Linked DNA regions of Homo sapiens: region 2 is linked to region 1. The links come from fine-mapping of genetic effects on gene expression. Tissue or cell type: whole blood. Region 1 holds a variant in brackets; the other region holds the start of a gene. All regions are shown on one strand. Distances are from middle to middle.

What was found. PIP is the estimated chance that this variant, and not a neighbour inherited with it, causes the effect.
Region 2: it holds the start of GLS, and the variant in region 1 is fine-mapped to the expression of GLS in whole blood (TOPMed, PIP 0.93).

Annotation. Positions count from the first base shown.
Region 1 is chr2:190,975,667-190,983,773 of GRCh38, reverse strand. It overlaps STAT1 (signal transducer and activator of transcription 1), which reads left to right. Exons shown (of 25, transcript NM_007315.4): 17 at 34-132; 18 at 1,256-1,391; 19 at 3,105-3,154; 20 at 3,908-4,002; 21 at 4,773-4,918; 22 at 6,749-6,934; 23 at 7,887-7,962. Among named protein-coding and RNA genes, the nearest start is that of STAT1, 34 kb to the left of the region's middle. The variant A/G (reference allele first, on the strand shown) is at 3,755.
Region 2 is chr2:190,876,205-190,884,311 of GRCh38, reverse strand. It overlaps GLS (glutaminase), which reads right to left and starts at 3,491. Exons shown (of 18, transcript NM_014905.5): 1 at 2,842-3,491. The coding sequence starts at 3,227. LOC124906110 (a long non-coding RNA gene) reads left to right here and starts at 2,324. Exons shown (of 2, transcript XR_007087791.1): 1 at 2,324-2,399; 2 at 2,744-7,976. RefSeq lists enhancers at 2,014-2,203, 1,368-2,567, 3,964-4,103 and silencers at 2,524-2,833, 2,894-2,983, 3,034-3,093, 3,434-3,693.

The DNA of each region.
Region 1 (8,107 bases):
TCAGATGATTTCAAGGTCTTTGTCATCCTTTAGACGACCTCTCTGCCCGTTGTGGTGATCTCCAACGTCAGCCAGCTCCCGAGCGGTTGGGCCTCCATCCTTTGGTACAACATGCTGGTGGCGGAACCCAGGGTATGGAAAACACATTTGCTTTGGTCCCAGGGTTAAGCAGAGACCCCACGCTCTCACTGCTGCATCTCTGAAATAGCCCCAATGGCCAGTTGTTAAGGGAGAAGTGACAAAGCTCCTGTGGTATTTCTAAGGCTTTTGAGTAAATCTGGGAATATGAAGCATGGATATGTATTTGAAATGAGAATTACGTTTTTTCTCCCATGTGGGTAAGCTAGGGCAGTCAGTGATTCCATACCACTTTATTGTTATTATTTTTAAAATGTATACATCTACTAAACAAGCATGCTCCATTCTTAGAGTGTGGATACTCACTGTTAATTAATTACAGTCATTTATAATTATTCAAAGTACTTATGTTTTTTAAAGTCACCAGGAACACTTAACTAGCAAATAATGAATTGTTGCTCCTAAGGGAACTACGAGGCTAGGTTCCTTCAAGCCTCTGGTCACAACATTTTTGTCAACCCATCAATGCATAACATTGTTTATGTGTGTTTCTGTTTAAAGACACCTTATCTAATACACTTGTTGAGGCATTAACATTACACCTATAGCTAGGATCACTGTAACTCATGCCTGAGTGAAGCTTGCCTCACACATGTATTTTCTCCATAAGGCACATCCCAGCCTTCCCATGCTTAGGAACAGTAGACCACACTGTGGTACTATGCTCGGGCACCATTTTAAACAGGGATCACCAACAGCAGTCACAAAATGCAAAAAACATGGCGCTAAATAGGCTTCAAAAAGGACACGTTTTTCTTATGAGAGGTGAAACAGGAAGCGAGTGTCATTTTGTTTGGCTTCAGTTGGAAGCGTGTTAAGAGACTCGAATTCTTTGCTGCTGTGTGCTGCTGTGTGTGCACGGGTGTGTCTTCAAATGACCCCAAAGATGCCATGTATTTAGATTTTGGAGTTACAAGTAAATTTTAGTGAGTAAACAAGTTCACAAATGTGCATCTGTAAATAATGAAAATTGACTGTATTTCTCTTCCCCTACTGTGAAAGCACCTGTGTGTCATATAAACTAGAATTGAACTTTGGGATGGACATATGTTTTAGTGCCACACTTGTGACTGGTGTCTCTGTAGTAACCCTTAGATTTTGGGTGTTTTCTCTCTAGAATCTGTCCTTCTTCCTGACTCCACCATGTGCACGATGGGCTCAGCTTTCAGAAGTGCTGAGTTGGCAGTTTTCTTCTGTCACCAAAAGAGGTCTCAATGTGGACCAGCTGAACATGTTGGGAGAGAAGCTTCTTGGTATATGCATATTAACTTGTTATGTTTATAAAAATTGAAATTCATAAAAATATCTCTCTAATTGCTCTTTTCCCCTCTGCTATTTTGTTAAAGGTAAAAAAGTACTAAAATCTGTCAGCTTTTCAAGCTATAGTTTATTATAGCTAAGTGAGAATCATATGTCACCTTAGAAAGAAATATAGACCTGATAACATTTAAATGAATCCGTTCCTCATTGTCTCATATTAAGATTTCTGAGATGAATTCCCAAGGGAAAGTTTTATGAATTATGTAAAATATATTATTTGTGGCTGAAATAAGTTCCTGGATGAGAAAGATGAAGGCCTATTAACCATTAACCTTGGGGAGAAAAAAGGAAGTCCCTGACATGATGAGAAATAAAGTCCTGGGGCTTGCCCACTGCAGCATAAACCCAGGGCCCTTGCCTCAGGTGGGGCCCAGGTAGCAGAGGATGCCGTCCCCACAAGAGGATGCCTCTTTTGATCTGCAGTTTTGCCTGATTGGACAGAGTCTAGACAGTGGTAGATAATTCCCTTTCAGTGGTTAATGTCAGTGCATTTATTAGTCCTTCATACTAAACAAATCAAAGATCCACTAGTCTCAAGGTCAGATCTTTCAGTGAGTGAGGCTATCTGAACTATTTCTTTAAAAATCCGTGGACAACTTGTATCCAGATTTGCTTTCTGTAGAGCAGCACTGCATTTACTCCAAACAGCAGTAGGCTCTTCCTAACTCAGTGACTTTCAACAGTGCCTTCTTCTCTTGGATATGCAGCTGTCACAGTGGTGGTCTTGTGCTGTTTAATACAAGTACAAAATCCCCTTATTCCATTTCTTTATTTGGTGAGAGTTAAGAAGGATATCTTTTCTAGCTGTAATGGCTCATTTGTAGTTCTCTTTGAAGACCGATAATGGGCTTACCGCCTCTTCTCGCCCAGGCTGCTTTAATTTGTGTAGCTAATAACCCCGGGCTTCTTCCTCTCGTTTCTCTCACTTGGTTTTTGATTTGCATCAGACTGCCTGAGCCCATGTCCTATTTGGAGGAAAGCTGAGGGAAATGCATAAATAATGTCTAAAATAAACTTGTAAAGTCAAGTATCAGTTACATTGAAGATCTAGGGGTGATCTTGGGCACCTAGGTTGAACTTTGAAAAAAATTCTGTAGGATCCTTGGGAGAGGGGGCTCTGCTGAGCAGCAGAGGAAGGCAGTGGGAAGAGGCACTGGATAGGGAGGCTTCTCTAGGAGGCCCAGCAGAACACCTTTGATTTAGTGCAAAAGGCAAAGTCAGCTGATGGTCTTGGAAGGAAGTGTAACATGAAGAGGCATTAAAAGGACTGTCCTCTCTTTAGAGGAGGGAGGGAAAAGGGGGGCTGGGGAGGGAGAGAGCAGATGGTAAGGCTTTGTGATGTTTCCGCTTTCCCTAAAAACTCTCATATCGTGGTGCCCAGGAATCTGCCATCCATTCCTTTCTGCCATTAAACTCAAACCAACATATACATATTTTAGACCATTTAAATTCCGCCCTCTTACAGCACGTATTATAATTGCTCAGTTAATTTGGCATTAAGGTATCCGAAAATGTCAACTGTGTACATACAATCTTTGTTGGGTGTTTGGCTCTTTTCCTTGAGAGCAAATACAAGAGCCATCCGTCCAACCAAAGCTTTAGAATCAGTTTCTGTTTGCTGAAAAATCTGGTTTTTATTTGTTTAGGTCCTAACGCCAGCCCCGATGGTCTCATTCCGTGGACGAGGTTTTGTAAGGTGAGGACTGTCTGGGTTTTATGCTCTCTAAGTCCTTTTTGCTCTTGGTTGAGGTTCTCATGTTTCTTGCTGTGATAGTTACTTAACTGTTTGCTTATTTTGGCGTGTTCTTCTCTGGCCAAGGAGCCCCTCGGGCAAGTTGTTTACTTTTCTTCAGTGCAGGAGGTTGGTCTCCGAGCAGGAGTCTGACAGGAAGCACCTGCCTGAGTGATAACATTCTTTCATATCTGAAATGAGGCTTCTGTTCACTCACGCTGGACCCCTGCCCAGCAGTGTTTTAGCCATTTCTGTGTGAAATGTATGTTGTGGGCTGGGTGGCGCAGCCTGACCAGCCAGACGAGTTTAACGGCCTGCTCGAGCAGAGGGGCCCACTGCGGGGAACATTTAGATTCTGCTGGAGTCACCAGACAGTGCGGACCAGCTTGCACTGCTGGATTTTGCTAGTGTGGGGCAGCTTGTGTTTCCGTGAGTCACGCTGGAGGTCACCCCCAGGCTAGCTTGCTACTGTTTGGAAAGGGAAGCAGAGCCCGGCCCAGGGAAGTGGAGAGCTCTGGAGAGCTCCTGGTCTGAATGCTGATAAGAGCGGGGAGGGAACTTGAT[A/G]TTCCCTGCCAGGGGAGGGATCCCATTGCTGTGCTGAATGGGACAGTTCCATCCTTGGCACCTGGGGAGTCTTTGCAAATGATGGTGGGAGGGGCCATGGTAAGTCATTGTTTTAGATTTTTGTTCATAATGTCTGCATTTGTATACTTTCAGGAAAATATAAATGATAAAAATTTTCCCTTCTGGCTTTGGATTGAAAGCATCCTAGAACTCATTAAAAAACACCTGCTCCCTCTCTGGAATGATGGGTAAGGGCCACCGATAGATGTATTTTGAAACATATTTTTAGTGCTGCGAGGTTGAGACAAGGCCTGAGTCCAGCTTCAGTATTTGACTAGGCGTGTGTGAATCTCACAGGAGTGCGCATTTATAGGCTGCCCCTTCAGGGCTTCAGAAGAGTAGAACCTCATAACATTAACCTTACACTTTCTTAGTACAAGTATATGTATTGGCAAAGCTAAATTAAAAAAAAAAAACAACTCTTGAGTGCCATTCATGCATTCATTCACTCAACAAAAATTTTTTGAGCACCTACTATGTGGCCCCTAGGAAGGAAGAAAAACCCTTTTAACTGGGTAAATCATTTCTATCTTGACTTATTGCCAGGATCGGCTGATATTTCAACAGAAGCTTTAACTTGATCAGAAGGGCTAAAATATGAAAATATATTGCCTAGGTCTTCCTCTCCAGTAAAAAAGATGTATACATTCAGACATTGTTATGGCCTTTAAAATAATAAAGGAACAATAAAAGGCTCATTAATCCCACACGTGTTATTGAGCATCTGTAGCATCCTACTGACACCATGTTCATATCGCTTTTTTTAAAACCTTAGTATATACATGTATAAGTGAAATGCTTCCTTAAGTGTCAACTGAACAGATTTTAAAATAGTCTACGTTTTTTACCGTAGGTTTTTTTTCTCACATTCCAGCCATTTTCTTGGTTTGTAAGTTAGCATGAAAATGGAAATCATGATTGAACTAAAAGCCCATCCGTCCATCTCTTCGATATCCAGGTGCATCATGGGCTTCATCAGCAAGGAGCGAGAGCGTGCCCTGTTGAAGGACCAGCAGCCGGGGACCTTCCTGCTGCGGTTCAGTGAGAGCTCCCGGGAAGGGGCCATCACATTCACATGGGTGGAGCGGTCCCAGAACGGAGGCGGTGAGTGGGAGTTTGAGCACATAGTCCCACCATTCCATGTGTGTGAAGTCCCTCTTCATCGCCGCCAGTCAGCTCATACAGATAGTGCGTTTGGGACATGAAATTGCAGATCTTATACTTACCCCAAATGAGCCCCCGATAGGATTTAATAAACCACCACAAATGTTTGTGGTTGTGGTTCACTCTCTGGAACATATTGTGGAAATGATGGTTTTGAAAAGACAATGCCAATTCTTTCCTTTGCATCAGGTTTGTTATCTGCAGATCAAGGATGTGAGTCAATGTAATCTGCAACCCGTTCTTGGAAGGAATCACATTTCCCACAGGAGTAAGCATCCACATTCTCTTAGGGTCATCCCAGAGTAGAGTGTGCAGATGAGACAGGCTTCGGGAGAAGACTTCATACACATCATCAGCCAGGGAGTTGATGCAGGACCTGTTGGGACGAGTGGCAGCCTCTACCCTGCCTTCAAACAGAGCAGCTGCAAATTTATCTTTATCATATATGGGGTTTCTATTTAATCAAATGAGTCCATGGCTAAAAGACTCCAGAAACCTTGGTGTTATGAAGCAGGTTTCTGAGGGTGAAGCTCAACAGCGTAAATGAAAAAATCATAAAGACCAACTGATTACTTTTCACTGTTGTTTAGAGTTTGGTCTGTTTGAAGGGCAGGAGGAAAAACTGATTTGTTTTAGTAATTTTTATACTTTCAGTGGGTAGACACAAAATGGAATACTCTTCTTGTTCTATTTATTTTTCTGAAATATTCCTCTTCTCCTGTTTTTCTGGAATACTCTTATTCTATTTGTTTTTCTGCCATACTCTTCTTGTTCTGTTTGTTTTTCTGGAATACTCTTCTATTTTTTTTTTCTGGAACGGTATTCTTTCTTGTTCTGTTTATTTTTCAGGAATACTCTTCTTGTTCTATTTGTTTTTCTGGAATACTTTTCTTGTTCTATTTTTCTTCTGAGGAAAAAGCAGGGAGGCTGAGATGAGAGTCTGGCGTGGGCAGTAGTCATTAGAACCTGCCCTTTTCCTCTTATCCTGTTCCCTTCCTGAACCAGCTGAGAGACAGATATAGTAGACCAAGCAGAGATGAAGAAAACCCTTGGCAACCAGGAAAGGTCAAGCAGGACACTACCAGCCAGGAAGGGTTAGGATGGCAGCATAGTCTCATGTTCCACAGCAGGCTCCCCAGAACACCTGAACCGTGGCCTCTGGAAGGTCGACACCCAAAGGGAGATTCTGTATCAGCTAGGAAGAAGGATCTGAATTCAGTCTGGGAATAAGAACGGGAGTAAATTAAACCATGGTTTATTACGTTAAGGGTTACAGGGAAATGTAGCAAATAGGATCATTTTTAATTTGAAATGTTGTTTTCTATATATCATAATTTATTTTAATAAAAAATTAGATTTTTCAATATGAAAAGAAAAACAAAGTGAGTTTATCTCTAGTAATTTAAATCTGTGGCTTAAGCCAAGATGATCCACTTAGTAGTAAGTTATTTATGTGCCTATGGGCAGCACATCATTGAAGATGCAGGCTTTTAAAGGTTTTTAATAAATCTTTTTTGCCCAGATTTATAAATCTAAGCAAATAATGGCAAATAGAATGTTATTGAGAATAATACCTCCCTTTATTTTCCCTGAGACAGTATTATAATTTATTTAGAAATAAAGCAGTCTACTGTATATGTTATAATGCTTAGATTGTGATTAGTTCTTATGAGGTTCACTCAAATCCATCAACTCTGCAGTGTTTTATTTCTCTGTCCTCTTTCATTTTGGGATGTTCTATGGGATTTACTTAGCTTTTCTCCTTTTTAGAACCTGACTTCCATGCGGTTGAACCCTACACGAAGAAAGAACTTTCTGCTGTTACTTTCCCTGACATCATTCGCAATTACAAAGTCATGGCTGCTGAGAATATTCCTGAGAATCCCCTGAAGTATCTGTATCCAAATATTGACAAAGACCATGCCTTTGGAAAGTATTACTCCAGGCCAAAGGAAGGTAAGTGGGGCAAGCAGGTGGTAACAGCGTGGCACAGTCTTTCCTGATGAGGGGGTGATTATTCTGAAACTCCACCCATGCAGTGTTTTGCTTTCGAATTGGTAAGAGTAGGCTTTCAAAAGATGGCATAAACTCAGTGCAGGTGAAACATAATGCATTATTTGGCCTGATACAGCTAGTAAGAAATGAATGGACAATTTCCTATTTTAGGAATGTTGGAAAAGTCCATTGCTGGTCTTGTGTATTTGTTACTATCACTGTTTCCACATGAAAAGGGTTTAAATAAGGAACTGTGGTAAACCAACAGAAGGCATCTTGCTCACGTTAAAGTTGAGGAAACTGAGGCCTGGGAGAAGTGAAGTGGTTCATTTAGGGTGGCCCAATTACTTACTAGATCCTATTTTTATTAGATAATTATTAAGAGGAGGCCTCATCTGAGAACACAGGTCTCTTGCTTCTCAGTTGTCAATGAATTGCATTTGAGAAGGTTCGAATTAGACCTGTTTTGTTTGGAACACACCAACAAAGCTGTTTTTCAGAATCAGAAATCTCAATATTAGGACAATTACTTTGGAATGAAGATGTCCCCAGCTTACCTTGACAGCTGTGAATATTCATTAGCCAGGCTAATGCCAATAAACTGGATAGAACTTTGCATATTTTGGGCTCAGACTTCTTGTAAGATTTCAAGTTGTGTAAAGAGAAAGCTCCTAGCTAGTGTCCTGCTGAACACTAGCTTATTTCCAGACTGAATTCAGATCCTTCTTCTCGTTGTTTCTGCATTCCCACTAGAATTTTAGGTGACTCAGGCAGGGAGGTTATAGCTCCTTAAAGTTTTAGGAGGCTAAGCTGTCTAGAAACACAGTAGAACTTTAATCCCCCCGAAAAGTTGATGTTGTATTCTGATGGAATTTCGGTTGATGGAAAGCGTACACAATGTGTTTATTTCTAGCACCAGAGCCAATGGAACTTGATGGCCCTAAAGGAACTGGATATATCAAGACTGAGTTGATTTCTGTGTCTGAAGTGTAAGTGAACACAGAAGAGTGACATGTTTACAAACCTCAAGCCAGCCTTGCTCCTGGCTGGGGCCTGTTGAAGATGCTTGTATTTTACTTTTCCATTGTAATTGCTATCGCCATCACAGCTGAACTTGTTGAGATCCCCGTGTTA
Region 2 (8,107 bases), 99 kb after region 1:
ATTTAAGAACAGAGCTTTGGATTAAGAGGTGAAGTATTACCTACACAAAGATGAGAGTCAAAGCTGAAAGAAGGGATACGCTGTTGAGAAGGCAGACAAGTGGGAAAGGGACAAAGGCCTCAGCCTCAGGGTTTTTACCCAGTGAGGAAATTCAAAAAGAACTAGGAAAGAAGAGAGAACAATTTTGAAAACGAAGAGAGGCAAGCAAAGTTGGTTTTCAAGATAACAGAATGAACCATAACAAAATTAAATAAGATCACTAAAGACAAAACTGAGCAAAGATCATTAAATTTTTCTATGTGATATTAAGACGTTCGTATCCTAAACCACACTAAAGTTGCGTGATGGAAACAGCATAGTCTAAAGTGACATTAGTTCAAAGAGTTTGTGAAAAAAAGGTAAAGTAACTTGCTTATATCACGCCTCCTTCCAGAATATAAAGTAAATAAAATATAAACTCAGGACCAAGGAAAGGAGGAAACGCAGATATCCCAGCCATGTGAACTGATGAAATTGGTGTGGTTAAGCATTAAATTTACTCTGAACTTATTTATCAGCAGAGCAAAAGGTAAACAGTGCAACTCACATAGTTTCATATAAGACAGATGTATAGCAATTTCTCAAGATAAACATTTTTGTGGAAACTAAAAAAATTAAAAACCTTCATGTGCAAGCCTGAAATTCCAAGGCCAATCTCTTTAACAGGCTTTACAATAATGAAGAAGCAATGTTTTCTCATTTATTTAATAAATAGTTATGTGTCATTTAACACACGCCAAATATTGTTCTAAGCCTTTTACAAAATGTTAATTTAATTTTCTCATGGTTATTTCTTTTAATAATACTACATAAAATCTGGCACAGTCCTGAGTGAGTGCTAGCATACCAGGTGGACTGCTGACTGAGGGATGACCTATGCTTTGCAGGCTAAGCATTAGAAAGGATAACAGGATCAACTGGGAGCTTACCTCCCAGGATAAGAGAAATGTTTGTCACATAAAGGCAAAATGAAAGGAGCCAAAGAGGGAAAGCTACATTTGGAAACCAGATCATTAAGGAAATAGAAACTTTAACCAAATTAAAAAACTTTCTTCACAACCTTGAGGCCCTTGCTAAAAGGTGATTTTTTATTAAAAAGGCAATGAAACCAGAAACTTCTGGACAAGTGAATCACAGAAGAAGCTCAATTTCCTGTTTGACAAAAGAGGAAAAAAAAGAGAGGCACTAGAGCCACTGCAGAGACACAGACCTGAAGACATAATTTTACTAGAATGCAGTTCCCATCTTGTAGCCTTTAAGATGAACTTTTAAACGGTTGTGACTGCATTTTGCAATTCTGTACCTTGGGCACTTGCATGTAAACTCGTTACTTCCTTGGTAAACCGGATGATGTTAAAGTAAAAGTGAGTCCCAGATGAGATTAAATTATCATTCTAGTCCCTAAAACATGAGAGAAGTACAAATTTAACAGAAGTATAGCTTTTTAGAACTTGAAAGGATTTAAGTCATCTAACCCAAGATATTAAATAACCTGTCCATGGTCAGGACGCTATTTTGTGGCACAAAACCAACATCACAAAATACCACAAATTTCGCCCATCATCAAGTGATTTTTTTCAAATAATCTTTTTCAGTCTGGGAGAAGAACTTTAGAAAAGTTTCTGGAAGGTCCCAACTTCAATTACAGGAAAACATCAAGCAGGCGTGAGATTGAAATTATAACAATGTTCTCACTTTCAGTTTGACTTAAGGAACTCTAGAGCTGGAAATAGCAGCAGAAATAAAAGGGAAGCAAAACAGGTTAGAGTGTCAGCGTACAAAGCCAGAAAAAGAGTAAGGTATAATGAAAGCAGATCCGTAAATTTTTACCCATTTTGGGAAAACAAAGTGGTCCATTTGTATTACACAAGACAAAAATATATAGGAGACTGCTTTGCATATTGTTTAAGAAAAACCAGTTTTGCTTTAAGACTAAACTACTGTGCCGTACACATACAGGATGAGTCAACATCCTATCACAATGAAGTCACAAAACCTACTCAACTCAGATTTTTCACTGAGTTAGTGTATTACGTCACATTTCATCTTGGCTATTTAACTTTTATTTCTAAAAATCTCCCCATCTCACGGAAGACCTGACAAGCCAAAGCTGGTCCCTTATGCAAACAGGTGGTCTATACTGCGTGCCCCATCTTCTCGGCCACATGACCGGATTCCTCCTAATCTCACTTCTGAAACATTGTTTCCGGTGCCCCAGATGGCTCTACACGTGCCTGAGGTAGCCACTCCCGAAATATAAAGAGCTCTCTGTCACATCTGGCTTCCAACCGGATGATGGCAGAAACCAAGGGAGGGCAGGCAGAGCGGAAACGAGCCAGGAAAAGCGACAAGTCAGGAAGGTAAAGGCTCTGCTGAACGCCCAACTCCTAAATGTCACTCGGTGGAGATGTTCGTGCAGCATCGCCCACGAATGGCTGGGGCGGGCGGCCAGGCGCTGCAGCCGCAAGCCAGGGAGCTGAGCACGCAGCGCGGGCAGGGGAGCGGCCTCTCTGGCGCTGGGGACGCCAGGCGAGCCCATCAGGCCCCACCGCGGCCCCACCAGGGCGACCCCCGCCGGGGGCGGAGAAGGGAAGTGGGTGCCTGGCGGAGGGTTGCGGGCGGGGAAGGCGCGGGCGGGGCCGGGCCTAATCACATGGCGCAGACGGCGCAGGCCGCCCGGCACCTCTTTCTTTCTCTTTTCTAGACCCTCGGCTCCTATCCCGCCCCACCGCAGGGCCCCACACAGCCTGAGCCCGGGCCCCGAAAGGAACGAGGCCTCCTGCGCCTCGCGGAGACACTCACTTTTCACCTGAGGCCACCAGCTCTTTGCCCTCGCTGTTGCCAAACGCGTCCGTCTCCCCGGGGCCGTCCTTGGGGCCGGGCGCCGCCGGGGCAGCGGGTGGCGACACCCCGGGCTGCGGATGCGTGCTCCCCTTGCCCAGCTCCTGCAAGATCTCCGAAGGAGAGCTGGACAGGCCCCGCGCGAGGGGCTCCGCCGGCCAGCCGCCCCCGCCCCACCACGGGTGGAGTCGCGCGGCGGCAGCCGGGCCCGCGGCCGGCCGTCCCCCGCCTCGGGGACGCCGGCACAGGGTGACCAAGGGCTGTGCCCGCCGCAGAGTCGCGCTCACGCCGGCGGGCGACCGCAGGAGCAGGTCCCGCAGCATCCCCGAGCCTCGCAGCCGCATCATGCCGCCGGGTCCGTCAGCGCCCGCTCAACAGGGGAGGATGCTCCGGGCGTGGGCGGCCGGTTTCCTCGGGGAACGCGGTCTGTGGTGGGGCGGTGAGATGACAGAAGAGGAAAGGGCAGCTACTTGGGTGTGGTTCCGGCTCGGACTCCCGCAGCGGATGCGGGTGCTGCTGCTGCTGCTGCTGCTGCTGCTGCTGCTGCTGCTGCTGCTGCGCGCTAGGATTGCCGCGACCGGTTCTCTTCGCTCCGCCTAAGGCTCCGCACTGAGGCTAAAGCGCAGGGGAGGGCTAGAGACCTTCAGCGCTCGCCGACGGCCCGCCCCTTTCGCCCGCTGCGATTGGCTCAAATCCTCGACCTCTCTTTTGATTGGCGATTAGGGCAGTCAAATTTCTCTCGGCTCTGGGTGCGCGGAGAGTAGGGCGGGGGATTGGTGGGGGGCGGGGAGAGGAGTCAAACTGACGTGTGAAGCGGGTGAGCCAGGCCCGGCTGCTCAGTAGCCACTTTCTGCACGCCGTGCCAACTCCGAGGCTAGCCTAGTTGGGTACTAGGGGCTCTGGGTTCTCGCATTTATGAAGCAGTGGGCTCCTCCACTCTGGGAATTCGAGCTGTTGGGGAGACTCATGGGCGAGATCCCCCGCAGCCGAGGGCAGTGAGGTCAGCAGGTTTGGCAGGGCTGAGTCTGGCCGAGCTGTCGGAACTCAGCCGATCCCAGCTCGCATCTGGCCCCCAGGTCAGGGCGTCTGGCGACTCCTCCGAGAGCAGCCCCGGACAAGCTTCATCCCTCTCCCAAATGTAACATTTGCTTGAAACTTTCCATGATTGGCTACTACCCAGACGTGAAGTGTTTTGGAAAAAATGAGCAAAATCCTTTCAGCTATGCGACTTAAGCCATGGGAGGGTGGAGGTGGAGGGAGGGCGACGAGTGGCGAGGCGGGGTGGGGGGGTTGCGGAATCCAGAATACGACAGCTTTCTTTTTTAAAAATTATTTTTTTTAAATGTACACCGATACTTCAAAAATAGTTTTGAATAGCAATGATTCCGTTAACGCTATTTGCTTGAAAGCAAAACTGTAGATACTTTTCTATTTTAAAAACTGCTTCACTGTTTTAAAATAGAAGCGTTGGAATACGGGTTCTCTAAGTTATTTCAGCATCACTTTATCCATTTATCCTTTTGGACCTGTGGAAAAACAGCCAAGAACCTGATAAACTGAGTTATTCCCTGAGGCTACATACACATTACATTCCAGGACAAAAAAATGTTTTTAGACTATTTCCTGAAACAATTAGGTTTAAATGGAGTAGATCCACAGAGTTTAATAAGATGTTTTGGGGGTTGGTGTGTTGTTACTGTGTTGTTGTGTGTGTTCGTTTTGAGAAAGGGTCTCACTCTGTCGCCCAGGCTGAAGTGCAGTGGCGCGATCACGGCTTACTGCAGCCTTGAACTCAGGGGCCCCGGTGATCCTCCCACCTCAGCCAGCACCTGCTTTTTTTTTTTTTTTTTTTTGTATTTTTGGTAGAGACGGGGTTTCGCCAGGTTGCCCAGGCTGGTTTCGAGGGATCTGCACCCCCTGGGCCTCCCAAATTGCTGGGATTACAGGCGTGAGCCACCACGCCCGGCCTAATGAGGTGATTTTTATGAAACTAGAAGGGTGTATGTCAGGTGCATCATTAATTGATAACCGGATTTAGTAATCTAGTGAACTGTAAAATATTTCAATAGATTAATAATTAGGAAATCTGGCTGTACCTACAGGTTATGTGACCTTTGGCATGTTACAGCCTTGCCGTGTTTTAAGTTTTTTTTTTCTATCTGCTCTTTAACCAGAAGAACATGGAAAAAACTATCATGTGTAAAACATAGTCACCTTTTTTATTTAAAAAAAAAAAAGCAGGACAATGGGAAAGTACTTAGATAGCTTTTATTACTAATGTTACTTGTCCAAAAATGTTGATGAATCAAAGTAATGATATATTCAGGAATAGAGACATCAAGTTTCAGAGGAAAGGTAACAAATATTACCCCTGCCTAACCCTGACTTGTTAATGACTTGCAGACTTTAATATTGTCCAATATATTAGCTGCAATTAGTTATCAATTTTAACTGCCTCTTTTTTCTCAACAACACAAAGCAACTGACAATCCAGTTACTGTTTTCCTCTCAGTTTCTCCCTTAATTTCTCTGAGTTTCTTATGAAAATTGTTTTAGATATTTAAAGGTTTAAAGGCTTTATAGTTCACTTAACAAATAAGAAAGCTAACCTAGTAACAGATTATTTTCTAGAGTTTCTAGTTTCTAGAGTTTTATTTTCTGGTAGTTTCCAGACTTTCTGCTTTTGGTGAGAATGGATAGATATTACTCCCAAAATTTGGAAGAATTGAGTCCACTGAAATTTAACCCCTTGTTTGAGAAGGCTAATGAAAAGGTTATAGACAGCAAAGAAACTATTATAAATAGAATAAAAATGTGACTCAATACTTTCATTTGATTCTTTTCTTCATCTTATATAATTTTTTAATCTTTAAAGATATTTTTATCTACAACTTTGTAACCATTACACAACTTTGAAGTTTCAGTTATGTTAAATTGAATTATATCATTACATAAACTCATGTAATCATCATGTAAAAAGTATAAAAACATTTGTATACATACAATAAGTAGTCCACCAAAATATCTACAAATAGAAAAATGCTCTCCACATTAACTATGGTTGGGTTGTCAGATCTACTCTTCGACTTCCTTTTTGCTCCTAAGTGCAGCTACACTACAAAGAGTTGCTGTCCCATAGCCATCATCAGGTAATCAGCCATCAAAAGGAATAATTGGAATTTGTGCACTTTGTGTCTGTTCTAACTTGAAGAAAGGTTCCTGTGCTTCTATGTTCCTGAGCTTCTTTGTTCTGTCGAAGATTACAAAAGGCTAATGTTTCAAGATCATAATAAAATCCATATATAGGCCGGGCGCGGTGGACTCACACCTGTAATCCCAGCACTTTGGGAGGCTGAGGCGAGCAGATCACAAGGTCAGGAGATTGAGACCATCCTGGCTAACACGGTTAAACCCCATCTCTACTAAAAATACAACGATTAGCTGGGCGTGGTGGCACACACCTGTAATCCCAGCTACTTGGGAGGCTGAGGCAGGAGAATCACTCAAACCTGGGAGGCCGAGGTTACAGTGAGCCAAGATCGCACCACTGCACTCCAGCCTGGCAACAGAGCGATACTACATCTCAAAAAATAAAATAAAATAAGATAAAATAATATATATATATAGAAATTCCAGATTGCGCCTTCACAAAAACTAGTAGATTATTTGTTGACCTAGAACTAAAAAGAAAGTAATTTTCCTTTGACTAACAGCTTAAAAGAATTGCCTAAGCCTTTTTTTGAAATTCTTCTGTTTGGAGAATAGAGTAAGGTTCAGGAAGCCTCTAAACAAGCTTCTGCTACTACTTCCCTTTCTTCTGTTGGTTTCCTGCTTTAACTGGCCAAATTCCTAGCCTCACTGATAAGCCCTGCCAAACATGGCTTATTTTTCCAATACTGAATATAGATGTGTACCAAAGTAAGTATGGTAAATCCCTCATCTATAAAAAGGGGATAATATGGCCAGGCAAGGTGGCTCACGCCTGTAATCCCAGCACTTTGGGAGGCCGAAGCAGGTGGATCACCTGAGGTCAGGAGTTCAAGACCAGCCTGGCCAACATGGTGAAACCCCATCTCTACTAGAAATTCAAAAAATTAGCCAGGCATGGTGGTGCATGCCTGTAATCCCAGCTACTCGGGAGGCTGAGGCAGGAGAATTGCTTGAACCTGGGAGGCAGAGGTTGCAGTGAGCCGAGATCTAGCCATTGCACTCCAGCCTGGGCTATGAGAGAGCAAGACTCCATCTCAAAAAAACAAAGGGGGGCGGATAATATTGGTACTTATAGGGTTGTTGTGTGGAATAAATAAACAACACATATAAAGCACCCAGAATAATGACAGTAGCACTCTGTAAGTGTTATAGCTGTTATTATCAAACCATAGGTGAATAAATTTTGACATGCAATGTGATCAGTTTTTACACTTATTGTTGAAAAGCCAAACAATTGTTTTAAACCATCTAATAATAAAATACCATTTAAGGGGAACCTAGAGATAATTTACTTACTTCATTTTTAGAAAATAAACCAATAATTTTCAAAGTATCTTAAAATAGAAAAAGATAAAGACAGTCAGATTAAGAAAAGCTGGGCTCAGTGCCCAAAGTAACAGCTATTCACAAATAGCTAAAAAAAAAAAAAAATTCCAGAGAAGGAAGAATCGCTAAGAAAGCAGTCCTTGAATATACATGTCATATACAAATACCTTAACATATAGCAATTAAATCTAAAAATATATCATTTGCCATCTATGTAAATGAAAGTATACCTCTGTTCATTGTGACATCATATAAAATGACAAGAGATATTCATCAAATTTGAGCAGCATATCTGAATGATCTGCCTTAAAATACTAACTATATGAAGTTCTTTTTGAGAGTTTCCTGATGGCCGGAGTGGGGGTTGGGTGGGAATCAGTTATTTTTCTCCACTTAGAGTAATATGATAAAGATTTCAATTAGTGGAGTTTGTAAGGTAATATTGTTTATATTTACACCACCATTATATTTATGGGGCCTCCAAATATTAATTTTTTAAAGTGATTTTAATGCTTATTTTTCTGTGGATTCATATTAAAAATAAATCAGGCTAAACCCCAGCCCAGAGTTAAGAAAGTCTTTCTTGTATATTAGCAAAACCTAAAAAAAACTGATTTTGTATATAGTCCAAAAGTCAGTCAAAAGGATACCTGCTTGAGAATGAAAACAACCTCTGTGGTAGATTATACTA